Linked DNA regions of Homo sapiens. The protein of the gene in region 3 binds, or shares a complex with, the protein of the main gene of each other region. Each region holds a gene or a part of one and is shown on either strand. Other genes may lie near its edges. The genes, in order: LAGE3, TPRKB, GON7 and OSGEP. A codon is read from its position in the direction of its gene.

What was found.
Region 1: the proteins of GON7 (region 3) and LAGE3 are in contact, whole or in part, in a crystal structure (PDB 6GWJ), measured with the Homo sapiens proteins. Residues at the interface, in NP_115879.2 of Homo sapiens: Met1 (codon at 2,972), Glu2 (codon at 2,969), Leu3 (codon at 2,966), Leu4 (codon at 2,963), Gly5 (codon at 2,960), Glu6 (codon at 2,957), Tyr7 (codon at 2,954), Val8 (codon at 2,951), Gly9 (codon at 2,948), Gln10 (codon at 2,945), Leu17 (codon at 2,924), Asp28 (codon at 2,891), Pro29 (codon at 2,888), Phe30 (codon at 2,885), Gln31 (codon at 2,882), Leu33 (codon at 2,876), Leu34 (codon at 2,873), Val37 (codon at 2,864), Met40 (codon at 2,855), Lys41 (codon at 2,852), Val44 (codon at 2,843), Thr45 (codon at 2,840), Leu47 (codon at 2,834), Phe48 (codon at 2,831), Asp49 (codon at 2,828); in NP_006005.2 of Homo sapiens: Pro60 (codon at 1,492), His61 (codon at 1,489), Ile62 (codon at 1,486), Phe63 (codon at 1,483), Thr64 (codon at 1,164), Leu65 (codon at 1,161), Ser66 (codon at 1,158), Val67 (codon at 1,155), Pro68 (codon at 1,152), Phe69 (codon at 1,149), Pro70 (codon at 1,146), Glu74 (codon at 1,134), Arg102 (codon at 1,050), Ile103 (codon at 1,047), Glu111 (codon at 799), Cys113 (codon at 793), Leu116 (codon at 784), Arg117 (codon at 781), Val120 (codon at 772), Ile121 (codon at 769), Leu124 (codon at 760), Asp125 (codon at 757), Leu127 (codon at 751), Ser128 (codon at 748), Val131 (codon at 739), Arg132 (codon at 736), Met134 (codon at 730), Gln135 (codon at 727).
Region 2: GON7 (region 3) and TPRKB share a complex: the UniProt entries of both Homo sapiens proteins name them as parts of the EKC/KEOPS complex.
Region 4: GON7 (region 3) and OSGEP share a complex: the UniProt entries of both Homo sapiens proteins name them as parts of the EKC/KEOPS complex.

What each region holds. Positions count from the first base shown.
Region 1 is NC_000023.11:154,477,247-154,484,275, forward strand, and holds LAGE3 (EKC/KEOPS complex subunit LAGE3), read right to left. Parts: upstream 2,036-7,029; 5' UTR 1,670-2,035; coding exon 1,482-1,669; intron 1,166-1,481; coding exon 1,037-1,165; intron 813-1,036; coding exon 698-812; 3' UTR 529-697; downstream 1-528. UniProt on the Homo sapiens protein: Component of the EKC/KEOPS complex that is required for the formation of a threonylcarbamoyl group on adenosine at position 37 (t(6)A37) in tRNAs that read codons beginning with adenine.
Region 2 is NC_000002.12:73,729,364-73,734,364, forward strand, and holds the end of TPRKB (EKC/KEOPS complex subunit TPRKB), read right to left. Parts: intron 3,342-5,001; exon of another isoform or gene 3,338-3,341; coding exon of another isoform or gene 3,221-3,337; intron 2,923-3,220; coding exon 2,800-2,922; intron 1,374-2,799; coding exon 1,197-1,373; intron 667-1,196; coding exon 580-666; 3' UTR 510-579; downstream 1-509. UniProt on the Homo sapiens protein: Component of the EKC/KEOPS complex that is required for the formation of a threonylcarbamoyl group on adenosine at position 37 (t(6)A37) in tRNAs that read codons beginning with adenine.
Region 3 is NC_000014.9:93,204,066-93,211,417, forward strand, and holds the start of GON7 (EKC/KEOPS complex subunit GON7), read right to left. Parts: upstream 3,001-7,352; 5' UTR 2,973-3,000; coding exon 2,765-2,972; intron 1-2,764. Other genes in the region: putative E3 ubiquitin-protein ligase UBR7, read left to right, coding at 3,227-3,376, 5,759-5,892, 6,583-6,643. UniProt on the Homo sapiens protein: Component of the EKC/KEOPS complex that is required for the formation of a threonylcarbamoyl group on adenosine at position 37 (t(6)A37) in tRNAs that read codons beginning with adenine.
Region 4 is NC_000014.9:20,451,795-20,458,623, forward strand, and holds the start of OSGEP (tRNA N6-adenosine threonylcarbamoyltransferase), read right to left. Parts: upstream 3,019-6,829; 5' UTR 2,890-3,018; coding exon 2,775-2,889; intron 655-2,774; coding exon 535-654; intron 356-534; coding exon 180-355; intron 1-179. Other genes in the region: DNA repair nuclease/redox regulator APEX1, read left to right, coding at 3,852-3,909, 4,120-4,307, 4,874-5,066, 5,197-5,714; PIP4P1 (type 1 phosphatidylinositol 4,5-bisphosphate 4-phosphatase), read right to left, coding at 6,765-6,829. UniProt on the Homo sapiens protein: Component of the EKC/KEOPS complex that is required for the formation of a threonylcarbamoyl group on adenosine at position 37 (t(6)A37) in tRNAs that read codons beginning with adenine.

The DNA.
Region 1 (7,029 bases), on a different chromosome or scaffold from region 3:
CACATCTTCAAAGCAAGACTCAAAAGGATCAAACCATTTCCTTGTTTTCTGAGAATAAAAGCAGTTGTACCTCTTCCTTTTCACTCTCAGAAAATCTGATAGAATCTATAAAAGAGCCCTAAGGCTGGAGACACTGTATTTTCCAGGGAGCCAACTCCTTGCCCCAGACACTAGTCAATTGCCCCAGCACTTTCTTCACTGATCGTTAGAGGAAAAAAGCTCATGTTAGATTTAAAAATCAGGAAAAAAATTTAACACTAAACTTGCAAATATTATGTGGTGTATATTACAGTTACACATTTACTATGTAAGTGCAACTGTAAAACTGAGGAAGTATTCCAAAATGTTGACAGTAGTTAATCCTGAATGACAGAACCCAATTGATTTTCATTTTCTTCCATTTCCTAAATTGTCTTCAATTTCCTTGTACTCCTTGAATATCTGAATTCTAGAACCCCCCCCCCAGCAACCCAAGCACAACAAGAATATTGGGAGGTGCCCCAGCTGCAAATAAACTCAGACTTGGAATAGTAGCGCAGTTTTATTTTCTGTAGTAACAAACATTTAAGAACCAGATAAAACATGAGGCCCTCCCAGGAAAGTAGCAACTGTGGGAATTCCTGCCCTAGGGAAGGATGGACGCACTGCCTACAAGGAGACGCAAAGTGGGACCTCGCTCCATTTGCCCAGGCCAGGCTTAGCGGGAAACGGGGGGCCCAAAGCGCTGCATGGTCCGCACCACCAGGGAAAGCTGGTCAAGAAAGTTGATGACGGAAATTCGGAGCAGGCGACAGTCTTCAGCTTTCCAGCGGCTAAAAGTGAGGGGAAAAGAAAATCAAATTGGAGGTGGCAACTCCTGGTCCCTCGCTCTGCCCCTCAGGCACCCAATATAGCAAACCCTTGGGAGCCCTGCCATTACACAGCCCCTCAGGCAGAGACCGGCCCAGCGCACCTGGCGCTCCTTAGGGCTCATCCTTGGATGTCCCCCATGTCTCCATGGGCCGCCTCCCCCAACCCCGTCCCTTTCAGAACTTACACGACCAGGATCCTGCCACTCACTGTGAGATCCTTCCCAACCACCCTTTGGTGGGGCTCGGCATCTGGTGCCAGGGACCCATGGGCGATTTCCGCCTCCAAGGGGGTCGGGAAAGGCACGCTGAGGGTGCTGGGGGTCATTCGGTTAAGGTGCCATCTGATACGATCTTGCCTATGTCTCAGGCCTTCTTGCTCCTCTGAAGCCCCCTCTCAGGTCACCCTGCCTAGTGTCACCCCCTTCACTCCTTACCTCGCCCAGGCCACCGTTAGCAGAGCTTCTCCCTCCATTTCAATGTCTTCCCCTCCTCCGACCACCTCTGACCGTATACGCCAGCCCCGGTCCCCCCCTGCTACCCTTTCCGTCGGCCCCCCGCCCGCCCTCCTTTCCTTCTCCCCGAGTCCAGCCCTCGCTCCGCCGCAAGCAGCCCCCAGCTCGGAAAGGATACAATATGTGCGGCCGCATTCGTGACCCCCTGGCCGCAGACGCGGCGTCTCTGCCCGGACCTGGCGCGTGCGCTGGGGGAGCTCCACCGGCCGGAGCTGCGGCTGTGTCCACGCCCCCGCGGCAGCTGTGGCCACCCCGGCCATCCCCGCCGTCAGCGCCTCCGCCTGCGTCTGCATCCGCGTCCCGCATGACCGCCGCCGCGCCGCTCCGACTCCACCCCCGAAGCGCAGGTCCTACGCCCCGCCCTCTCTGTGGCTCCTTCCCGAAGCCCCGCCCCCTGCGCACGACTCCGCCCACACGCGCCTGCGCAGGTCCCTGGAGAGCCTGACTGGCGCGTGGTCAGTTCCCGCCAAGCGGCCCTGCCGGGGGCCTTCTGAGACCCGGTCAGCGGTTGAGAGGCTGCGGTTTCCTCCAGAAACTCTGCCCTTTCGCGCGTAACTCGATTCCAGAGCGCTGGTGCAAACTGACCCACAGTCGGTCCGGCCCCAGGAAGCCAACCCTGACGGGGCTTTTGAAGACACCGTGGTCGCCTATCCCAGAGGCGCACCCCGCGAGGCTCCGCCCCTAAGCGCGCCTTGTGACCTTAGCGCGCCTGCGCTGGCGGGGCCTTCCCCCTTGTCCCTGGAGGCCCCAGTGAGGCCCTGCGGTGCCTGGACGGCTTCCCGCCCCGTTTCTTACCTGGACCCAAGAGCCCCAGGAGATGTGGCACAACGTCCATGTTGCGATTCGCAGAGGGAGGGTGGCCGGGTCGGGTAACCCCCAAGGATACTGCTCTTGCCCTCAACCCCAGTGCCCAACCAACGGGGCTTCACCATGGACTGTGAAGCATCGGATGTGCATTTTAGAGGAAGCATTTTAGAGCGGGTGGGCTGTGCAGAGCGGGGGAGCCTGTCAGCAGGAGGCCTGCACGGAGGCGAAAAATGACAGGGCCTTGAATGAAAGTACTGGCGGTGGGTCTAGGTCTAATATAACGTGAAAAATCAGACTGCACAACTATGAGTATGAAAATGCCAGTTTAGGCCAGGCAAAGTGGCCCCCGCTTGGAATCCCAGCACTTTGGAAGGCCAAGGGAGGAGGATCACTTGAGCCCAGGAGTTCAAGACAAACACAGGCAACATAGTGAGACCCCGTCTCTACAAAAAATACAAAAATAAATTTTAAAAGTTAGCTGGGAGTGGTGGAGCGTGCCTGTAGTCATAGCTTCTTGGAGGCTGAGGAGGGTTGATTGCTTGAGCCCGGGAGTTCGACACCAGCCTGGGCAACATAGTGAAACCCTGCCTCTACAAAAAATACAAAAATTAGCTGGGTGTGATGGTGCACACCTGTGGTCCCAGCTACTAGGGAGGCTGAGATGGGAGGACAGCCTGAGCCCGGGAGGCAGAGGCTGCAGTTAGCCGTGATCGCCCCACCGCACTCCAGCCTGGTTGATAGAGCCAGACCCCGCCTCAAAAAATAAAAGAAAATGCCAACTTAGTCTCTTACTGTACATATGTAGAGAAATCCTAGAACAATACAGCGTCAGGTAAATCCTCATGATCTCTGCTAATAGTATGGTGGGTGACTTTAATTTCCTTTTTGTGTTTTCCCTCCAATTTTTCCGAAGTGGTCTTTTATGACATTTACAATAAAAAAAAAAGTATTTAAAGTGACATCAGTCCGGGCACGGTGGCTCACGCCTATAATCCCAGTACTTTGGGAGGCCGAGGCGGGTGGATCACTTGAAGTCAGGAGTTCAACACCATCCTGGCCAACATGGTGAAACCCCCGGCCCTACTAAAAATAACAAAAATTAGCTGCGTGTCGTGGTGTGCGCCTGTAGTCCCAGCTATTCGGGAGGCTGGGACAGAAGAATCACTTGAACCCGGGAGGTGGAGGTTGTGGTGAGCCGACATCACGCCACTGCACTCCAGCCTGGGCGACAGAGGGAGACTGTCTCAAAAAGAAAAATAATAAAAATAAAAAATGAATAAATAAAGTGACATAAAATTTCCAACAGTGTTTGTCATGTTTGGACAACCTATTTTCCTCCTTTGCAGTCATAAGGAAGGATTAAACACTGAACTATATCAGCAAATCCTGTTGGGTTTCCCTCTGAAATAGGTTCCACATCAGCCCACTTCTCGCTCTCCACTGCTAGTCTGCTGTGGAAGCCAGCATCTTTCCTTGACCTCCCTCAACAGCTTCCTGGCTGATTCTCTTTTACACTTTCCCCTCTACAACCTATTCACCACACCGCAGAATGACTTTTTAATTTCTAATTTAAATTGCATGGGGCTGGGCGCAGTGGCTCATGCCTGTAATCCCAGCACTTTGGGAGGCCAAGGCAGGCAGATCACTTGAGGTCAGGAGTTCCAGACCAGCCTGACCAACATGGTGAAACCCCATCTCTACTAAAAATACAAAAATTAGCCAGTTGTGGTGGCAGGAGCTTGTTATCCCAGCTATTTGGGAGGCTGAGACAGGAGAATGGCTTGAACCCGGGAGGTGGAGGTTGTGGTGAGCCCAGATCGCACCATTGCACTCCAGCCTGGGCAACAAGAGCAAAACTCTGTCTCAAAAAAAAAAAAAAAAAAATTAGCCGGCTGTGACAGTGTGTGCCTGCGGTCCCAGCTACCAGAGAGGCTGACGCAGGAGGATTGCTTGAGCCCAGGAAGTCAAGGCTACAGTGAGCTATGATCTAGCCACTGCACTCTGCACAAGTAACAGACTGAGACTCTGTCTCAATCAAACAAACAAACAAAAAAGTCCATGATATTCAGGAAAGAAAGCAGAGATAAAGGAAAGGTTTTTATAGGGAAATGGCAAGTAATAGCTGTAGAAAAAACTATCAGAAAATTACCATCTTTGCAACCACCAATGTAATAATTAATTGTTATTAACTTAATAATTGATTCAGGATGGCCAGGTGTAGTGGCTCACGCCTGTAATTCCAGCACTTTGGGAGGCCGAGGCGAGTGGATTGCGAGGTCAGGAGTTTGAGACCAGCCTGGCCAACACAGTGAAATCCCATCTCTACTAAAAGTACAAAAAAAATTAGCCGGCTGTGGTGGCATGCATCTGTAGTCTCAGCTACTCAGGAGGCTGAGGCGGGAGAATCTCTTGAACCCAGGAGGCAGAGATTGCAGTGAGCCGAGACCACGCCATTGCACTCCAGCCTGGGTGACAGAGTGAGGCTCCGTCTCACAAAAAAAAAAAAAAATCGATTCAGGCAAGGAATTGTCGCTGGATGGCAAAAGCATTAGCTGAAAGGTTGTTGGGGACAGGATATTCACAAAGTCCCCAAATATTACCCCAAATTACTTGTGAATCAGGAAGGGAAACTGCGTCTTTACAGGGGAGAGATCTGGCAGCAGCCACCTGGATCACGTGATCAAACTGAGCGTCCTCAACAGTGGGGCAGCCTGACCCTGCCAGCTGCCTGATGAGGGGCTGGGGGTGAGTGTGGTCAGAGGAGGAAAGGATACAGTAGCAGCTGCCCTGGATGCTTCCAAAAATATTCTTGCCTGATTGCCTATGGAGAATGGCTAGTTGGGAGAGGCAAAGATGGCCTCCTGCTCCCTCAGAAGCCTGGCTGAGTGGCATTGCCAGTCCTCCAGCCGGGCCGTGGAGAACACGTGTGTGCTGAGGAGCCGGCCAGTGCTGGACGTGAGTGCCAAGAGGGAAGGGACTGTGTCTTCCAGTCTCAGGGTTGCCAGCACCTGGGACACAAGGGGGCACTCAGTGATGAGCAGGGTGTCGTCTGCAGCAAAGTCAGGCGCTGTCTGGAAGACATGGGCTGGAGCTCAGGAGAGAGGGCCGGGATGAGACATAGACATGGCAGTGAGGCACAGAAATAGAAAGCAAGCTGGATGAGCTCCCCGAGGAGTGATACAGAGGGAAGAGAAGGGGCTCAGGGACAGAGCCCTGGGGCACCAACATTGAGGGGTGGGGTGTGTGTGAAGAACCAGCAAGAGAGCCTGAGTAGGAGCAAGTGGTGGAAACAGCGGGAGAGCAAAGGCAGAAGAGGGTGAGGAATGAGGACTGCCGGCCATTCAGTGGGGCCCTGAAGGTGTATGCAGGCCGCTCCAGCTGGGCCCTGGAGGAGGACAGGGCAGTTGCTGTGTGTCTCTCATCTCTCCTGAAGGCTTTTCAGGGCTGGGAGGCTCAAGGCTGGCCACCTCTGCTGCATCTACTCCTGGGAGTACCAGGCCCGGGCAGATCTATTGGAGCTGGTGAGGCTCACATGGGACACCAGCTGATCCATTGCCAGGGAACCTCCCCACCCCAAGGCAAATGCTGCTGTCCTCTGAGGCCGCTCTTCCTCCCGTGGGCCCTTGGGAAACGACACCAAAAGCACCTCATCCCAGCTGGGCCCTTCACTCATGCTGCTATCTCCTGATGTCATTGTAGTCACACCATGGCCGCAGGACTCAGATACTGTCCCGAGGCCCCTCCCTGAGGGGCAGGTGGTGGGTCTCAGGGCCCTTCACCGGGCAGGGGGCAGTGGATGACTCGGTGCTACCTCTCAGGGCGGACAATTGGCTCAGAGGGGCGCAGCACCTGCAGTAAACATTCTGACCCCTGTTAAAGGATCTCAGCATTGGGGGGGCTGCAGCCTGTGGCTGCTCCATCTTCATGCAGAATCCCCAGTGTCCTCTAACGATCCCCCCACTTCCTGTCTCCCATCCCTGCAGTGTTTCCTCTCTCTGGTGCTTTCCCTAACCCAAGCCTCAGAAAACGCTTTCCCTGTGTGATCTTGACGCCTCCAGCCCTCTCCTCCACTACCTGCGAGGTGGCCCTGATCTGACACATGCATGGCCCCTGTAGTGGACAGCTGCCATTTGCGGCCACCATTGAGGATATCCATTCATCCAGCCCTCCCCCAGAGCCTTCTGTCCCTTGCATAGCCCATGTGTGTCCAGGGAAGTGGCCCCATGCCTAGCTCCAGGGAGCCAGCCCTGACGGAGAATTACCCCCTACCCCAGCCAAAATGATTGGACGCACAATCCAGTTCTGACCAACGAGAAGAGTGTTTATTTGCTGGGGGCATCTGAGACAGCAGAGGTGGTACACAGAGAAGATGCTGCTCTGGCAGTGAGGGAGGGATTCCGTGGAAGCTGCAGGCAGCCATCTTTTCATCCTCGGAGGTGGTGGCCTGGGATGTAGCAGATACCAACGCAGAGGGAGGCAGAAGACACTGGGTGAAATTGCTCACCTGCTGCCAATGCCAATACCACTGGACTTTTCACTTTCATAAGCCAAGAAATTTCCGTTAACTGATTAAACAAATTGCCTTTATTGTTAAACCAATGATTGGATATCAGAAACAGCCTAGCTAATATAGCTCCTTTTGGATAAAAGTAGAAGCCTCACATTCACCTTTAATGTTATTTCACTTTTTCCAAAATCAATTTCCTGGCACCACACAAACAAGAACACTGGTAAATGTATCACCTGAACTGCAGGCCACACATGCTCACGAGTGTGTCCCTGCCGTAGGTGGCTTTGAAGCCATATACATGGCTCTCCAGCTCTCGTGGGGGGCCAGGGGCTTCTGTGTGCTCTTCAAA
Region 2 (5,001 bases), on a different chromosome or scaffold from region 3:
ATAAGTGTTTGCAATTTTTATTCTAATTATATAAAAATAAAATATATTTGAATAGAAACAGAACTCTAGAAGGCAATAACAAGTAATAGTAACTGATTATCTTTTAAAATACAACGAGGTAGGACTACAAGTGGTTTTTTTGTTTTTTTTTTTTTTGGTTTTTTTTTTTGAGACGGAGTCTCGCTCAGCTGCCCAGGCTGGAGTGCTATGGCACGATCTCAGCTCACTGCAACCTGTGCCTCCCAGGTTCATGCGATTCTCCTGTCTCAGCCTCCCGAATAGCTGGGATTACAGGCACCTGCCATCATGCCCAGCTAATTTTTGTATTTTAGTAGAGATGGGGTTTCACCATGTTAGCCAGGCTGGTCTTGAACTCCTGACCTCAGGTGATCCACCTGCCTTGGCCTCCCAAATTGCTGGGATTTCAGGCGTGAGCCACCGTGCCTGGCCTTTTTTTTTTTTTTTTAATACCATTCTGTGATTTAAACTTTTCTATAATGCACAATTAGTTTTATAGTCAGGAAAGGAAAATCAATGTTTTCTTTAATGCTGAGAATTTTTGTTAATATTTCTGACATTTCATAAAACATCTTTTGTTGACATTCTACAAATGATAGCATCCAATAATGTCCCAATACTTTCTTCTTGTGAAGAGAGTTTATATATCTGTAAAAATGAAAGACAAATTATGACTTGCTGATATCGTCATTCACTACTAATTGTCATTATACAAACATGTGTAAGTGAAATTATTCCTCATTCAATTATTGGGTTCATGGTATAACAAACAACAAATGTGATTAAAATATTCAAAGTAGAGGGCAATTCATTACTTGTATCCCCTTTAAATTGCTGCTATGGGAGTAACTCTCAAGAACATAAAAACCAAATTTCTATCCATTTTAAAAGCATACTAAATTTATTTTACATTTTAAATATACTATGTAAGTTTGATATTTAAAGGTATTCTCTTTCTTAATGTGGAGAATGGTTATGTCAGCTGAGTTTGTAATTATATTTTACATAAACCATCACACCTCCCAGTTCTTTGTATCTGTAATTTTTAAGTAATTTTTAAAATTAGATTAACTTTCTCAAAAGTTCAAAAAACAAGGAGCTCTGGTGATCAATAGGCAAACGGCATCAGCATTATTGCTCATCTATCACACTCTTTCTAAAAATATGGACTGGCAAACCTTTTTGACTTCTGTAATATTCATTATTTCAGGAAGATTTTTCAGAGAAACCTGATGACCTTCTACTTGAGATATTAGGTATTCTTGATTTATTTGTTTTTCTCCCTCTTCAATGTAAACAATTAGAATTGAAGTGTCATTTGCTGAGATACCAAATTTTTTCAAAGCCTCTGAAATCTAAGAGAAAAAAAATGAAAAAAAAAACACAAGATCATTAACCATTGTTTCCTACGTCTGAAACATTTCCTGATCTGCCTTCTTCCTTGGTCAGGCTCTTATTTTTCATGTCCTAACAGTTCTCACTGCCTACTTTTTCACTTTAATGATTCCTTTCCAACATCCATTGGCACTTCCTCAAAAGCACTCCCTGCTTAAAGGTACGCCTTGTTCCTATGGAATCAAGCCCAGCCTCTTGGCGCTGCACAAAAACACCTCCTCCCTCTGGTGCCAAGTGGCCCTCCAGCCAGGCGCTTCTGCCTTCTGGCCAGTCCAGCCTGCCTGGGGATCCAGTCACATTTCATGCCCTTCTGCCTGTGCTCAAGCTTTGTCCTCTGCTCGCATGTCCCTTCTCCTCATGGCTTGGCTGCTGAACACATGCTTCAGGGTCCACAGTTCTGATGCCACTCCCCACCACACCCTCCTCCCTCCAAAATGAATGGCTTCATTGCTGTACCCCTAGATTTGAATTCATTTTCCCATTATATCATTTATCTTAGGGCATTTTAACTTGTCTTGTTTATCTGCCTCTCCTCAGGAACATATTTGCCTCTTCTGCCCCTAGAACTGTAAATGGAACGGGGAAAAAGTTCAACAGATGTTTACTGAATTCAAGAGTTTTCTGAATTATGTCTAATGATCTCAAGGAAACCATAATTAGTAAATTTTATTCCAGGTACTGGGAATCTCTATTACCATGCTGAGATAACTGCATTTTATAAACTTGTCAATCATCTGTATTTTAACCTATGCTACAGGTTTCCTGTAGATGACATTAGTACCTGGTTGTTATTAACAGCAGCAGTAATACTAAAACTTCATCAGCAAAATTGCAGTCATTTTTTTCATGTGCTACATGTGTGATGTCTTTAGCTTGATAACTTTCATTGAAAAAGCATTACTATAAGTATTTCAAACCACAAACTCTACCTATGTACTGGGTGTGTGAGTGAGGCTGTGTTAAGGACTGTTATAGGTACAAGCAAGTTCCTGGTATATGAAAAAGACATGGATCCCACCCTCAAGGAGTTTACGGGAAGAGAGAATGATATGCAGGCTAGCACACAAAATATCCACGCCTAATGTTTTATCATTTAGATTTCTGTCAGCTTCTCAAGCAAAAATACTTGAGGGGTCTTCCTGACCCTATATGGTAAGAACAGATAAAATTAACCTCGCTTAATTTAGCTAAATTTTTGTTTACTCATATGTAAACTGTCTTAGTAAGAGGCAGGGTTAAACCTCAACTCTCTGTCCAGAGCTCTCTTCACTATTATTTGGGTTTATTACTAACCACTGGCTTGCAGGAATTTAGCCTCCAACCCAACACTGAGGAACACATATGTTATTATGACACGGTCAACAGAAATAGGAAAGTGCACATTACATTGTTATTTGGGGAAAGGTTGAAAATAATTTCAGTAGATAGAGTTCTTGTCTTCATTTTTCCCAGTTTGTAGAGGTGAACTGCTTTGTTTGCTGCCACAAGTATCTGAAATGGATCAACAATCTACCAAAGCAAGGAAAAAGAATTAATTACACATGGAGAATCTGCAGTGCCTGAAAACACATGGTAACTCATGGTTAACTCCAGTGTCAAGCTGTTTTACTTCATCACAATTCTTACGGTCTGTATTTTCAAAACTATTATCCCGGCTGGGCACGGTGGCTCACACCTGTAATCCTAGCACTTTGGGAGGCCAAGGTGGGTAGATCACCTGACGTCAGGGTTCAAGACCAGCCTGGCCAACACGGCGAAACCCTCTCTACTAAAAATACAAAAATTAGTCAGGCGTGGTGGCACGCACCTGTAATCCCAGCAACTCAGGAGGCTGAGGCAGGACAATTGCTTGAACCCGGGAGGCAGAGGTTGCCGTGAGCCAAGATCGCGCCATTGCACTCCAGCCTGGGCAACAAGAGTGAAACTGTCTCAAAAAAAAAAAAAACAAAAAACAACTATTATCCCAAGGGCCTGGGTAGTCAGGAAATCACAGAATTTTAAAGCTGCAAGGAACTTATGCAAATAGTAAAATTTTTTTAAATAACATTAATTGAGGGCTAATATTATGGGCATGATCATATTGCAAACATTTTACTTGTAATATTTTCTTTAATCCTCAAAACTACCCTATGAAATTGACACTATTATTAGTAGTAGTAGCAGTAGTAGTAGTATGTAATTGATGAGGAAATTGAGGCAAAGAATGTCTGGGTTTGAATCCCATCTCTGTCACCTATCACCTAGGAAACTTATGCAAGTTCATTAGCATTTTATTTGTTAGAGACCGATGAAACAGTATTCACTCCATAGGCTGTTGTGAAGATTAAGCAAGTTAGTATACGTAAAGCACTTGGAACAATGCTAGGAATGCAGTAAGCACTATATAAAGGTTGGTTATGTCTTGTTCAAAGGCCTAAGTAGTAGGTCTGGGATTAATTCCCGGTAACATGATCGCACTGCGTGTGCCCTGTTTTTTTGTTTTTTTTTTTTTTTGGAGACAGACAGAGTCTCTCGCTCCATTGCCCAGGCTGGAATGCAGTGGCTCAATCTCAATTCACTGTAACCTCCGCCTCCCAGGTTCAAATGATTCTTGTGCCTCAGCCTCCCGAGTAGCTGGGACTACCAGCACACACCACCACACCCAGCTACTTTTTGTATTTTTAGTAGAGACACGGTTTCACTATGTAGGCCAGGCTGGTCTCAAACTCCGGGCCTCAAGCAATCCACCCACCTTGGCCTCTGTGTGTACTCTTAACCACTACACTATTCCTCCTCTACAGACTGTCTTGTTAGGAACCCCCATTTTAAAGATGAGAAGCTGGAGATCCAGGCATTTCCCATATTAGACCCAGACCACAACCTTTCCTATTTCCTAGGGCAGGACCTGGCACTTCTGCCTCTATTCACTGTTATAGTCAAAGTTGGCTGCATCTGACTTGGACAAGAATTTTTTCCCTAACCGTGACAGATTTTTAGGCTACCCTATAACATCACAAATATTAATGTATACTTAAATGCCCTGTATGGCTCATTCATTCTTTTTTTTTTTTTTTTTTTTTGAGGCGGATTCTTGGTCTGTTGCCCAGGCTGGAGTGCAGTGGCACAATCTCGGCTCACTGCAACCTCTGCCTCCCAGGCTCAAGCGATTCTCCTGCCTCAGTCTCCTGAGTACAGGTGCCCACCACCATGCTCAGCTAATTTTTGTATTTTTAGTAGAGACAGGGTTTCACCATATTGGCCAGGCTGGTCTCAAACTCCTGACCTCATGATCTGCCTGCCTCGGCCTCCCAAAGGGCTGGGATTACAGGCGTGAGCTACCATGCCTGGCCATTTTTTTTTTCCAGACAGAGTTTTGCTCGTCGCCCAGGCTGGAGTGCAATGGCGCAATCTTGGCTCACTGCAACCTCTGCCTCCAGGGTTCAAATGATTTTCCTGCCTCAGCCTCCCGAGTAGCTGGGATTATAGGCGCCCGCCACCACGCCCAGCTAATTTTTGTATTTTTAGTTGAGACAGGGTTTCACCATGTTGGCCAGGCTGGTCTTCAACTCCTGACCTCAGATGATCCACCCGCCTCGGCCTCCTAAAGTG
Region 3 (7,352 bases):
GCTTACTGCAACCTCCGCCTCCGGGGTTCAAGCGATTCCTCTGTCTCAGCCTCCCAAGTAGCTGGGATTACAGGCACGCGCTACCACGCCCGGCTAATTTTTTGCATTTTAGTAGAGATGGGGTTTCACCATGTTGGCCAAGATGGTCTTGTTCTCCTGACCTCGTGATCCGCCCGCCTCGGCCTCCCAAAGTGCTGGGATTACAGGTATGAACCATTGTGGCTGGCCAAAATCCACTCTTTTAAAAAGTGTACGGCCTAGTGGTTTTTAGTATATTCACTAGCTTGTGCAACCATCACCTAGAACACTTTCATCACTCCAAAGAGAAATGATATGCCCATTAGCAGTCGCTTTCCATTCCCCTCAGCCTTCGGCAACCACTAATCTACTTTTTTTCCCCCTTATTAGAGATAGGGTCTTGCTATGTTGCCCAGCTAGACTCAAACTCCCAGGTTCAAGTGATCCTCCTGTCTCAGCCTCTAGAGTAGCTGGGACTACAGGTGCCCACCACTGCACCTGGCTCACTAATCTACTCTATCTCTATGGATTTGCCTATTCTGTACATTCATATAAACAAAATCATGCAACATGTACCCTTTTGTGTCTGGCTCTCACTTAGCATAATGTTTTCAAGGTTCATTCATGTTGTAGCACATGTTAATACTTCATTACTTTTTATTGCTAATAATAGTCCATTGTATGGATATACCACATTTTGTTAATGCACTCATCGGTTGATGGATATTTGCATTATTTCTATTTTTTAAAATTATCATTTTTAGAGATGAAGAGATGAGGCCTCACTCTGTCCTCCAGGCTGGAGTGCAGTGGAGCAATCAGCCCACTGCAGCTTCAAACTCTTGGGTTCACATGATCCTCCCACCTCCTAAAGGCGCAACACCAAGCCCAGCCAATTGTTGTTTCCACGTTTTAGCTACTATAAATGCTGCTGTTATCAACATTCATGCGTAAGTTTTTGTGTGAACATACGTTTCCAGTTTTCTTGGGAGGACTACCAGTGGAACTGCTGGGTCATATGGTAACTTCATGTCAACTTTTTGAGGAGCTACCAAACTCTTTTTCCCAGTGGTTACACTGTTTTACATTTCCACCAACAATGTACAAGGTCTCCAATTTCTTCACATTCCAGCCAACACTTGTTATTGTTCTTTTTGATTATAGCCAACATCCATATTATCAAGATGTATTTCCCAAGATGGAAGGAAAGTACAGTTTAAGCTCTTCTTACATAATTGTAAATCCTGACTCTAATATCTAGTTCTTGGGTTTTTCAGCTCAGGACGGTTAAAATGTACCTGCCTGGCCAGGTGTGGTGGCTCACGCCTGTAATCCCAGCACTCTGGGAGGCTGAGGCGGGTGGATCACGAGGTCAGGAGTTCGGGACCAGCCTGGCCAACACAGTGAAACCCTGTCTCTACTAAAAATACAAAATTAGCTGGGAGTGGGGGCGGGTGCCTGTAATCCCAGTTACTCCGGAGGCTGAGACAGGAGAATCGCTTGAACCGGGGAGGGAGAGGTTGCAGTGAGCCAAGGTTGTGCCACTGCACTCAAGCCTGAGTGACAGAGCTAGACTCCATCTCAAAAAAAAAAAAAAGTACCTGCCTATTTCTGCATTCGAGGCAATTTTTTAAAAATAATGCAGTTAAACTTCATGTTTCTACTTTCAAACTGCACCTACAAAACTGGAAAGGCAAGGGAGTCTCTGGGAGTTAATACGTGATAAAATGAAGTCTGTCCCAGTCTTTGGAACCTGTTCCTACTCTGCGATAGATTGTACTCTTCCAAGTATGTCTGTAGTTTCACACCTGATAAAACTCCTTTTTATTCAACACCCAGCTCAAAAGTCTTATCCTTTCTGAAGACTTCCTAGGGTGTCTGGGTTTGCAACAGTTACAGAGGACCACAGAACCACTTTCACTTTTTTTTTCTTTTTTTTTGAGACGGAGTCTCGCTCTGTCGCCCACGATAGAGTGCAGTGGCGCGATCTCGGCTCACTGCACCCTCTGCCTCCAGGGTTCAAGCGATTCTTCTGCCTCAGCCTCCCGAGTAGAGTAGCTGGGACTACAGGAGCATGCCACCACGCCCAGCTAATTTTTGTATTTTTAGTAGAGACAGGGTTTCACCATATTGGCCAGGCTTGTCTCGAACTCCTGACCTCGTGATCTGCCTGCCTCGGTCTCCCAAAGTGCAGGGATTACAGGCGTGAGCCACCAGCCCGGACCACTTCCACTTTTAATAAGAGTGTCTGCCTGTCTAGTCCCCTTGTGTTTCACAAGGGCAGGAACTGAGTCGCATTCACCTCATTCTTCCTCCAGGGCTCAGCTCAGGGTTTGGCACATAATAGTAGGCATTCGACACGTTTTTTTGTGAAATAAACGAAATAGCGATGAGTTGTGGAAACGCTTGAGTAGAAGCAGCCCAAATAAATATAGTGATAAATGCCAACAATTTTTATTTTTTAAATTATTTTAAAAATAATAATAGAAACGGGGTCTCGATATGTTGCCCTGGCTGTTCTGGAACTCCTGACCTCAAGTGATCCTCCTGCCTCGCCCTCCCAAAGTGCTGGGATTACAGGCGTGAGCCCCACTTCGCCTAGCCCGCCAAAAATTTTTAGATGCAATTCTTCTTTCCTCGAGGCTCACTTTGTCCAAGTCTGCCACTCTACACGGGCTCCCCAAGCCAATTTCCCCTGGGCGCCCGCCCCGTCCTCCGGTCACTGCAGCACCGTCTCAGAGCTCACCGTCCAAGTCCTCGTCTGGAGCCGCCGCCACCCGGTGCTGCACTTCCCCCTGTACCAGAGGGTCGAATAATTCCGTTACCATGTCCTTCATCTGGGCCACGCCAGACAACAGGCCCTGGAAAGGGTCGCCGTCACCCGGCGCCTCACAGGACACCCGCAGCTTCTGCGGCTTCCCTTCCTGCCCGACGTACTCTCCCAGCAGCTCCATGGTGACCGCTAAGCTTCCAGAACACGACACCGGGAAGCGCCACCCGGAGGCGGAAATCAGCCCGCGTCCGGCGCAGGCGGGAGAAGGGAGAGGAGTGACATCCGTTTGTCGGAAGTCGCTCCTCCCCCTTCCTTCGCTTTTTTTCCTTGTCATTGGTTCCTGGCACTCGGGCCCCACCTCCTCCGGCTACGCCCCTCACGGCCGCTTTTCCCGCCTCCGCCGGGGCCGAGCCGCTGTTCGGCTGACAGTTGAGGATGGCCGGAGCCGAGGGCGCCGCTGGGCGGCAGTCGGAGCTGGAGCCCGTGGTATCGTTGGTCGACGTCCTTGAGGAGGACGAGGAGCTGGAGAATGAGGCGTGCGCTGTCCTGGGCGGCAGCGACTCCGAGAAGTGCTCCTACTCTCAGGTGGGCGCGCGGCCCGGGCCTCCTCTCCCCCGGCTCCCGCCGAACCTCCCCTTCCCGGCCCGGCTGTCCCTATTCCCGCCTTGCCGCAGTCGTCTCCCCAGTGGTGGTCCGGGGCCGCCGTTAGTCTGCCGCTTCCTCACCCCAAGCTCACCCTTCCCTTTTAACCCCAACCTCCTGGGCCCCCTTCAGCCTGTGTCCAGCAGGGGCCCCCCTCTCCCCTGTCTCCAACTCTGTCCGGCCCGCCAGGAAGGGCCCTGGAGCAGCTGCTCTGTCCGTCCTCTCCAGCCTCTTCTTGGTGCACCACTGCTTTTCACGAAACCACCCCGCGACCTCTCAGATCCAGACATCTTTGTCCCTGATTTTCCCATCCTAAGATTATTTATTTATTTATTTATTAGGGACCGAATGGGAGAGTCAGGTTAAAGAGATTTTCAAATCCATAGGGATTTGCGGTGAGCTCCTTGACAGCTAGTTCCTCTGCAATTTAGTTGGACAAGTGCTAGCTAGTACTTTTTCTTTCTTTCTTTTTTTGGCAAAATGAAGCAAGTACCCATGTCTATCTGCAGTCTGCCCCCCTCCCCTGGAAATAGACCGGAAACAGAACAGCAAGTGGCTCTGGCAAGGGAGGGGAGAGAGGAGAAAAGGATCTGTTTGGCATTTGGAAGACGTTGTGAGTGAGCAAGTGTTTGAGGGGGTGTGATGTGGTGTTTAGTGACTCACCCTACACTTCGAGGTACAAAAATGGAAAAGGATGGGTAGGAAGAAGACTGACAAAGGATGAGAATTGGTAGGAAGAAGGGTTACCTAGGAAGAGGGGTGGATTGGAACACTGGGGAGATGAGGGGAGAGACTTGTATTCATTATGTGGTATGAACTGAGATCATAATACCAGTTCTCGTTGTTGACCAAGGTTAGTTTACACTGCAAAGTGCTAGATTGTTGAATAAACCTGGTATCCAGACATAGCCCCAGGTATTTTAAAACCTTTGGTCACCACTAAAACAATTTTTCCCCTGCTTTACTTAAAAAAAAAAAAAAGAAAAAAGTTATGTCTATATGTAAACTATTTTTGAAGTGTAGTTACCTTTATAAAATGGATTCCTTAATATTTTCTTTGTGGTAAAAAAAAAAATACGGAAATTTGCACAAATCATGTACACAGCTTGAAAGGAAAGTGTGCGTGTTCCCACAACCCAGATCAACAAATAGAACATTAGGAGTGCAAAAGGCTTATTGGAATAGAACTTTAAAAAAAAAAGAAAGAAAAAGAAATAGAACCTTACTGGCATCCCGGAAGCCTCCTTATCTATCTTCCTCCTTCCTAGAGGAAGGTAACTATACCTCTTATACATATTCACTTTTTTTTTCTTTTTGAGATGGAATTTCACTCTTGCCACCCAGGCTGGAGTGCAATGTCATGATCTCTGCTCACTGCAACCTCCACCTCCTGGGTTCAAGTGATTCTCCTGTCTTAGCCTCCCAAGTAGCTGGGATAACAGGCGCCCGCCATCACGTCCAGCTAATTTTTGTATTTTTAGTGGATGGGGTGTTCTAGAGATGAGGTTTTCACCACGTTGACCAGGTTGGTCTTGAACTCCTGACCTCAAGTGATCTGCCCACCTCGGCCTCCCAAAGTGCTGGGATTACAGGCGTGAGCCACCGTGCCCAGCCTACATATTCACTTTTTAACATTTTGTCACATTTGTTTTATCTCCTTTTCTACTTAAAATTTGCTGTTTTAAAATTTTGAACTATTTAAAAATAAGTTGCAGACACGATGACACTATACCTCTAAATACTTCAGCAGGCATCTCCTAAAAATCAAAGGGATTCTTTGCATGTGTTGATTCTTTCTTTGGTAGATTTACAAACATTTTCCAGGATGAAAGTGTGATGTTACTTACATAAACCTGTACATATGCTCCTGTGTTTTCACATATTAAAATGATTAAACAGATCCATTTATTCACAGCTGATTGACAAATTCAGACTTCCTATCACTTTAAGAAAGAAGTGCTGGCTTGTGTCGTGGCTAATGCTTGTAATCCCAGCACTTTGGAAGGCCAAGGCAGAGAATTGCTTGAGCCCAGGAGTTTGAGACCAGCCTGGGCAACATAGCAAGACCTTATCTCTGCAAAAAATAAATAAGGAAGAAAGAAAAAAGTGCTTGCATGAAAAAAAGCACTAGTATAAAAATGAAACTTGCAACGCAACTGTGTTTTGGTTGATGCTCTGTTGTGTAAACTTTTTAGTCTTAATGGTTTTTACAGAAAGATCTTGACCACAGATAATCTGATTTTAATTATTTTTCAGTTCCTAGTGTGGGTATTAGGTAAACCATGCTACTACATTAATTCTCTTTTCCATTTTGGGGGCTTTCAGGGCTCAGTAAAGAGACAAGCACTATATGCCTGTAGTACCTGCACCCCAGAGGGAGAAGAACCAGCAGGAATTTGTTTAGCTTGCAGTTATGAATGTCATGGAAGTCACAAACTATTTGAGCTATACACAAAAAGGTAAACATAGTCAAGAGATTGTTACTAAATGCTTTTGAAGTATAGATTCTTTCCCATCTACACTTTTTCCTAATCTTGTTTTTTCATGCAAAGCAGTTGAACACTAATGAAATTAATTAATTAATTTATTTATTTATTTATTTTGAGACGGAGTCTTGCTCTGTCACCCAGGCTGGAGTGCAGTGGTGTGATCTAGGCTCACTGCAAGCTCCGTCTCCCGGGTTCACGCCATTCTCCTGCCTCAGCCTCCCGAATAGCTGGGATTAAAGGCTCCCACCACCACGCCCAGCTAATTTTTTGTATTTTTAGTAGAGACGGTGTTTCACCGAGTTAGCCAGGATGGTCTCGATCTCCTGACCTCGTGATCCGCCCGCCTCAGCCTCCCAAAGTGCTGGGATTACAGGCGTGAGCCACCTCGCCCAGCACTAATGAAATTTAATGTAATTATTTTATATAATTGGAGAGAGTTGTTTCTAGAGCCTTTAAAAACATAATATGGTACAAACTCAAACCATTTATCTTTCCCTGCCATCATTTTACTTGTGTGTTTGTATGTGATATAAATATTTGCTTTTGTACATATTAATTTCCCGAATTGTGAAGTCTTACTATGTGCTTGAATGCTTGAAGAAATTTTAAATTGGATTTTGTAAAAAGAAAAATAAAATTGTTATTTCCTCCTTTTTTCAGAAATTTTCGTTGTGATTGTGGAAACAGCAAGTTTAAAAATTTGGAATGCAAATTACTTCCTGTAAGTAAGCACTGTAACTATAAATGCATTTAGAGCAGCTGAGGTTAATATTTGCCAGAGTGGGTAAAAAAACAAATACCTGTATTTTCCAAAAAAAGAAGTTCTTATGCTTATTCTTTGCAGATGGCCATTTCATTTTTTACTTTGTTAGAAAAACTATATAAACTGTTGAGAGCCTACAAGATAGATGGTAATTAATATGAAAGGTTTGGGGGAGAGATGTACTTGAAAGTAATTCAGGTTTAATTATATTGGTTGTACTTATTCTCTGAGGCTTTTAAATCAGCGGATATGACTTAAAAACAATAAATAGGGTCAAGAGATCGAGACCATCCTGGCCAACATGGTGAAACCCTGTCTCTACTAAAAATACAAAAATTAGCTGGGCATGGTGGCACCCAGTCATCTACTCGGTCAGCTACTTGGGAGGCTGAGGCAGGAGAATTGCTTGAACCCAGGAGGCGGAGGTTGCAGTGAGCCGAGATTGCGCCACTGCACTCCAGCTGGCAACAGAGCAAGACTCCATCTCAAAACAAACAAACAAAAACAATAAATAGGCCGGGCACGGTGGCTCACACCTGTAATCCTAGCACTTTGGGAGGCCGAGGCAGGTGGATCACTTGAGGTCAGGAGTTCAAAACCAGCTTGGCCATCATGGTGAAACCCCCCCGTACTAAAAATACAAAAAATTATCTGGGCATGGTGGTGC
Region 4 (6,829 bases), about 73 Mb from region 3:
ATCATGCTGCCAAAATTTGCAATGTTACAAACTCTGTTGGGGGTTTTCTGGTCTACAGTATTTTAGGTTCAGATAAGTCCATCTTTGTTCCTGACATTCCCATGACTCAGATAGAACAAAGAAAATACTGGTTCAGTGCCTCAGAAATTGAGATGGAGTGGGTAGAGCCCTCTAAATACCTGCGTATTTCCTCCACTCACATACAACACGGTTGGGCTGGTGGCTCCAGTGATGAGGCGGCCCATCTCAATGTGGCCTATACAGTGGTTCACACCCACCAATGGCTTATTCCACAGTTGGGCCACAGTACGGGCCACAACAGCCACAGAAACCAGTGGGGCACCCATGCCAGGGCCTAGGGAGATAGAAATGGAAGTTATAATCCTAGAGATTGGAAAAAAACAATAGTGGGGGACATAAGGGATGTGAGGTGGGGTAGGGGTAGTGATGGTGGCAGAGGTAAGGTGTTGGCTATTTTGACCTAGCCAGGTTGCAGGTATATTCCTCCATCGTTGACCACTCTCCCAGCCATACCCTTGGTGTATGCAATGCAGTCGATATCCTGGGAGGTTAATCCAGACTCTGTTAGTGCCTCCTGCAGCAGGTCTAGGATAACAGCTCGGTGATGCCTGGCTGTATCACCTGGAAGGAATCCTAGAAAATGAACATAGGTCAGAGATCACAGGGATTTTCTGTAGCAAAGGTAGGTAGGAAGTTAAAGAAAGCAACAGGAGTTTTAGTGATGTAGTAAGAGTCCTTTCACTTTCCCCAAGCATCCTATCTTCCACATTTTCACATCTACTCTTTCCGGCTTCTATATAGGCTATTCAACTTTCAGAAATGCTCTTCTTCTTACCCTACTCAGCCTTCAGGTCTCAATGCAAGTAGTATCTACCTCATACCCTTTCGTGATCTTTTTTTTTTTTTTTTCTTTTGAGACAGTCTCAGCTCTGTCACCCAGGCTGGAGTGCAGTGGCACGATCTCGGCTCACTGCAACCTCCACCTCCTGAGTTCAAGAGATTCTTCTGCCTCAGCCTCCTGAGTAGCTGGGACTACAGGCGACACCACCACGCTCAGCTAACTTTTGTATTTTTAGTAGAGACGGGGTTTCACCATATTGGCCAGGCTGGTCTCGAACTCCTGACCTCGTGATCCGTCTGCCTCGGCCTCCCAAAGTGCTGGGATTACAGGCCTGAGCCACCGTGCCTGGCCTTTGGTGATCTTCTTTCTCTGTGACCCTACAGAACTCTATGCATGATGATGTCATTTATTTAACATAACAATTACAGCATTATAATTTTCTGTGGTTTGCTCAGCTTAATCATGAATATCTCAAAGCATTGAGTATTTTATTTATCTTTGTATTCCCAGTGCCCAAGTGCCCAGAGGAGTGAATGCTAAACATACATATATATTTCTAGTGAGTATCTGTCACAACATCACCTGTTCAGGGAGGCTTTTCAGATACATGCAAGTCAGCTGCCCTCTCCTATGTATGCAAGTGTTTGAGGGGAGAGTAGCAAGATATAATAGCTTATTTAAAATATCAATTAAAAGTTGTAATGTGTTTTGTACTTTTTTTTTTTTTGAGACAGAGTTTCACTCTTGATGCCCAGGCTGGAGTGCAATGGCACCATCTCGGCTCACTGCAACCTCTGTCTCCCGGGTTCACGCAATTCTCCTGCCTCAGCCTCCCAAGTAGCTGGGTTTACAGGCATGCGCCACCACGCCCAGTTAATTTTTTGTATTTTTTAGTGGAAACATGGTTTCTCCATGTTGGTCAGGCTGGTCTCGAACCCCGACCTCAGGTGATCTGCCTGCCTTGGCCTCCCAAAGTGCTGGGATTACAGGCGTGAGCCACCACGCCCAGCCGTGTTTGGTACTTTCATCTAATCTTCAAGACCTAATGATACAGGTATTATTCCCATTTTAAAAACAAAGACCAGGCCCGAGCGGTGGCTCATGCCTGTAATTTCCACACTTTGGGAGGCTGGGGTGGGCGGATCATCTGAGGTCAGGAGTTCGAGACCAGCTTGGCCTGGTGGAAACCCCGACTCTACTAAAAATACAAAATTTAGCTGGATGTGGTGGCGCACACCTATAGTCCTAGCTACTTGGGAGGCTGGGGTAGAAGAATCGCTTGAACCTGGAAGGCAGAGATTGCAGTGAGCCGAGATCGTGCCACTGCATTCCAGCCTGGGCGACAGAGCAAGACTCTGTCTCAAAAAAATAAAATAAAATAAAAAATAAAGACCAAATGTCCAAAACAAAAATATTTAATATGAATATAGCAAAGCCAGCCAGTTCTGTCTGACATGTAAGCCGGGAGTCTTTCCACTCTCATCTCTCTACTCATCCTAGAATATTTCAAAAAATAATTTTTTTTTAAAAAGGGAGTGTATATTCAGGGCAACTGGAATCTATACTCCTGCTAAGCGTTTTTTAAACAGAATATTTCGAGTCCATCTCTATTATACTGTTTATCATGCTGTAGTATAAACATCTATTTATATGTCTGACTCCACAGCAGTATAACATCTATTTCTGAATACTTAGCACATAAAATGCGCTCAGTAAAAGGTAAATGAACTCATCAGATCCACGTCCAAGTGCCTGTAACTCTTCTAGTCATCAGCCTTGTGACGTTAATAATGTCACATAATTTCAATGAGACTCGGATCGAAAGCTGCACCTCACTAGTATTTAGGAAGATGGAAGGCTGATTCTGTGCGGGGAAGTGCGCGGAAAACTCTTAAGTCCCCTACTCACCAACCTGTGCCAGGAGGCGTGACGTAAGTCCGCCGCGGGTTCGCCAGCACCTTGCCATCCCGCACCACGCCCACGCCAATCTTATTGGCGCTGCCTTCAAAACCCAGCACCGCCGGCATGGCGGAGGCTGGGAGAAAACGCCGACAGGACTCCTGGCAATGTCAGGAGCTGTGGAGGTCCTCACTAGTCCGCGCTGGGCCGCAGCTTTCCGGAGCGCAGAGGAAGCTGGCCAGCCTGCAGATAGCACTGGGAAAGACACCGCGGAACTCCCGCGAGCGGAGACCCGCCAAGGCCCCTCCAGGGACCTGTCTTCCTAACTGCCAGGGACGCCGAGCCAACTCTGTGCCTTACATTCGTATCCGTTTTCCTATCTCTTTCCCGTGGTCCAGCCCAGCCTTCTCCACTGTTTTTTTCCCTCTTGCACATAGTTAGAATCTTAAGTCAGTGTCACACAATGTGCTGTGCATCTGGCACAACGATAAACAGCCCGAGGGAGGGTTGGGGACCTAAGTGTCCTAGAGAATTAGAGGAGGGAGGCGAGGCTAAGCGTCTCCGTCACGTGGTGTCAGACAGACCAATCACGCGCATTCTTCGGCCACGACAAGCGCGCCTCTGATCACGTGACCAGGTCCGCTACCCACGTGGGGGCTCAGCGTGCACCCTTCTTTGTGCTCGGGTTAGGAGGAGCTAGGCTGCCATCGGGCCGGTGCAGATACGGGGTTGCTCTTTTGCTCATAAGAGGGGCTTCGCTGGCAGTCTGAACGGCAAGCTTGAGTCAGGACCCTTAATTAAGATCCTCAATTGGCTGGAGGGCAGATCTCGCGAGTAGGGTACAAGGCACTATGAAATGATCTAGTTTCGTGGGTGAGGGGCTGAAGGGCCTATGATGCACGGAGGCGGGGAAAGGATTTAGAGATAACGTGGTTTGAAAGGCGGGACCTGGTGCGGGGACGCTCTTGGGAGGAGTCTTCTCCCCAGCCTTAGCTGGTTTCATGATTTCTTTGCGTCTGTAGGCAACGCGGTAAAAATATTGCTTCGGTGGGTGACGCGGTACAGCTGCCCAAGGGCGTTCGTAACGGGAATGCCGAAGCGTGGGAAAAAGGGAGCGGTGGCGGAAGACGGGGATGAGCTCAGGACAGGTAAGGGAATGAAATCAGCCCTTCTTCCTAGAAGCTGCGGCGGGGGTGTTTGTCATTCCCTTGATGTACGGTAAGTACGGGCCGACTCATTTTTGCAGGGGTTTGTGAAGAAGTCGCAGGAACCGTAGGCTTTCGTTGGGTCTATAGTTAACGCCGGATCGCAGTTGGAAACCACCAGCTTTTTGTCAGTATATATTACTCATTTTATAGAGCCAGAGGCCAAGAAGAGTAAGACGGCCGCAAAGAAAAATGACAAAGAGGCAGCAGGAGAGGGCCCAGCCCTGTATGAGGACCCCCCAGATCAGAAAACCTCACCCAGTGGCAAACCTGCCACACTCAAGATCTGCTCTTGGAATGTGGATGGGCTTCGAGCCTGGATTAAGAAGAAAGGATTAGATGTGAGTGGAATTTGAGGGAAAGAGACATTTTTTAGTATTGAATGGTCTTAGGGTTTAGTCACCCCTTTTCTCCGTTTAGCCTTCAGGCTGTTTTATTTTTCTCCTGCCCGTAGTTTTCTGTGGGGCTTCCCCAGTCTTGCCAGTTGTATTTCCTAAATGTCTGTTCCTTCACTTCCATTGCCATTTTCTTTTTTAGTGTTCTCTCCTCTTCCCAGAATGTTGCAAAAACCTCTTCACTATACTTCCTCCATTTTATCTTCCTGCATTGCATTCCATATGAAGCATGTCCTCCATTCCATTAACCATAGCTTAAAAATCTTAGCTTGCTATCCACTGCCTATAGAAAAAACACATCTCCTTGGCATAGCATGTAAGACTTTCTTACCTCTCTATATTTGTTTTCATTTATCTAGCTTAGAATTGTTTGAATATTGTGCTGCTTGACTCGAACTCCTTAGGCCAAGAGACTGTTTAACCCGTGCGTATCTATGACTTAGCATATAGATTATTCAATAAATGTTCTGCTGAATTGATAATACGTTTTCCACCTTTCTTTTCACTTACAGTGGGTAAAGGAAGAAGCCCCAGATATACTGTGCCTTCAAGAGACCAAATGTTCAGAGAACAAACTACCAGCTGAACTTCAGGAGCTGCCTGGACTCTCTCATCAATACTGGTCAGCTCCTTCGGACAAGGAAGGGTACAGTGGCGTGGGCCTGCTTTCCCGCCAGTGCCCACTCAAAGTTTCTTACGGCATAGGTGAGACCCTATTGATGCCTAATGCCTGAACTCTTCAAAACCAATTGCTAATTCTCTATCTCTGCCCCACCTCTTGATTGCTTTCCCTTTTCTTATAGTTTTTTATGCTAATTCTGTTTCATTTCTATAGGCGATGAGGAGCATGATCAGGAAGGCCGGGTGATTGTGGCTGAATTTGACTCGTTTGTGCTGGTAACAGCATATGTACCTAATGCAGGCCGAGGTCTGGTACGACTGGAGTACCGGCAGCGCTGGGATGAAGCCTTTCGCAAGTTCCTGAAGGGCCTGGCTTCCCGAAAGCCCCTTGTGCTGTGTGGAGACCTCAATGTGGCACATGAAGAAATTGACCTTCGCAACCCCAAGGGGAACAAAAAGAATGCTGGCTTCACGCCACAAGAGCGCCAAGGCTTCGGGGAATTACTGCAGGCTGTGCCACTGGCTGACAGCTTTAGGCACCTCTACCCCAACACACCCTATGCCTACACCTTTTGGACTTATATGATGAATGCTCGATCCAAGAATGTTGGTTGGCGCCTTGATTACTTTTTGTTGTCCCACTCTCTGTTACCTGCATTGTGTGACAGCAAGATCCGTTCCAAGGCCCTCGGCAGTGATCACTGTCCTATCACCCTATACCTAGCACTGTGACACCACCCCTAAATCACTTTGAGCCTGGGAAATAAGCCCCCTCAACTACCATTCCTTCTTTAAACACTCTTCAGAGAAATCTGCATTCTATTTCTCATGTATAAAACTAGGAATCCTCCAACCAGGCTCCTGTGATAGAGTTCTTTTAAGCCCAAGATTTTTTATTTGAGGGTTTTTTGTTTTTTAAAAAAAAATTGAACAAAGACTACTAATGACTTTGTTTGAATTATCCACATGAAAATAAAGAGCCATAGTTTCAGCCTTGCTGTCTTCGTGTCTTACCCCTTCGTGGGGCTACACATTCTCTTCCTCATATTTTCATGCACACAAGTTAACAACTGAAAAAGCGTAGAGTCATGACCTTATTTATTTACAAGCACAGGATAAGTCCCTAACCTCCCCCAAAGACTGAGCAACCCTACCCAGCCCAGTTAAATACTGCAACTGGGGGGGTAAAAAAGGTCGGGAGGAGGAATTAAGGGAAATACAGGAATAGGGGAACATATCCCACATTAAATAGTTATATACACATCAGTTCCTGTGGTTCTGTACAGAGCAGCGGCTGACCCCACCCCCACAGGACACAATGTGGGGAGAGGAGACTGAGGGTACTGAGGCCAGAGCCAACCTCTGGTGAAGTGCAATAGCAGCAGCAAAGTCCTAATGGTGCACAAGAGGGAGGGGAACCCCCAGGGCTACCCACCCCCACCCTGCCCTGGAATGTGTAAGGGACAGGAATGGCTCTCAGGGAGCACACAGGAAGGACAAGGCTGGAACCGTCTTCAGGGCCCAGTTTTAAGGGCAACGTTTTGCCTACTTCACCCTAGACACAGCAACCCTTGGAGGAAAGCAGATGGTCAGCAGTGCTCTTATCTGCCCCTCCAAACCTAAGTGAGGGCCTGGTTCCTTCCTACCTCTCCCCAGGGAAAAGGAAGGCAGCTGCTTGGCTTCCTTCTAGAAGCCCCGGGAGCCTTTAACTACCCCAGCTCCCTTCGTAGTGTCACTGTCCCCACCAGGGAGGGGCCAGGCACAGTCTGTGGGTCATCAGGCTCAGGAGAAGTTCTGGACAGGGTGGCTGACCTTCATACAGGCCCAATAAAGAGCCCGGCCCAAAC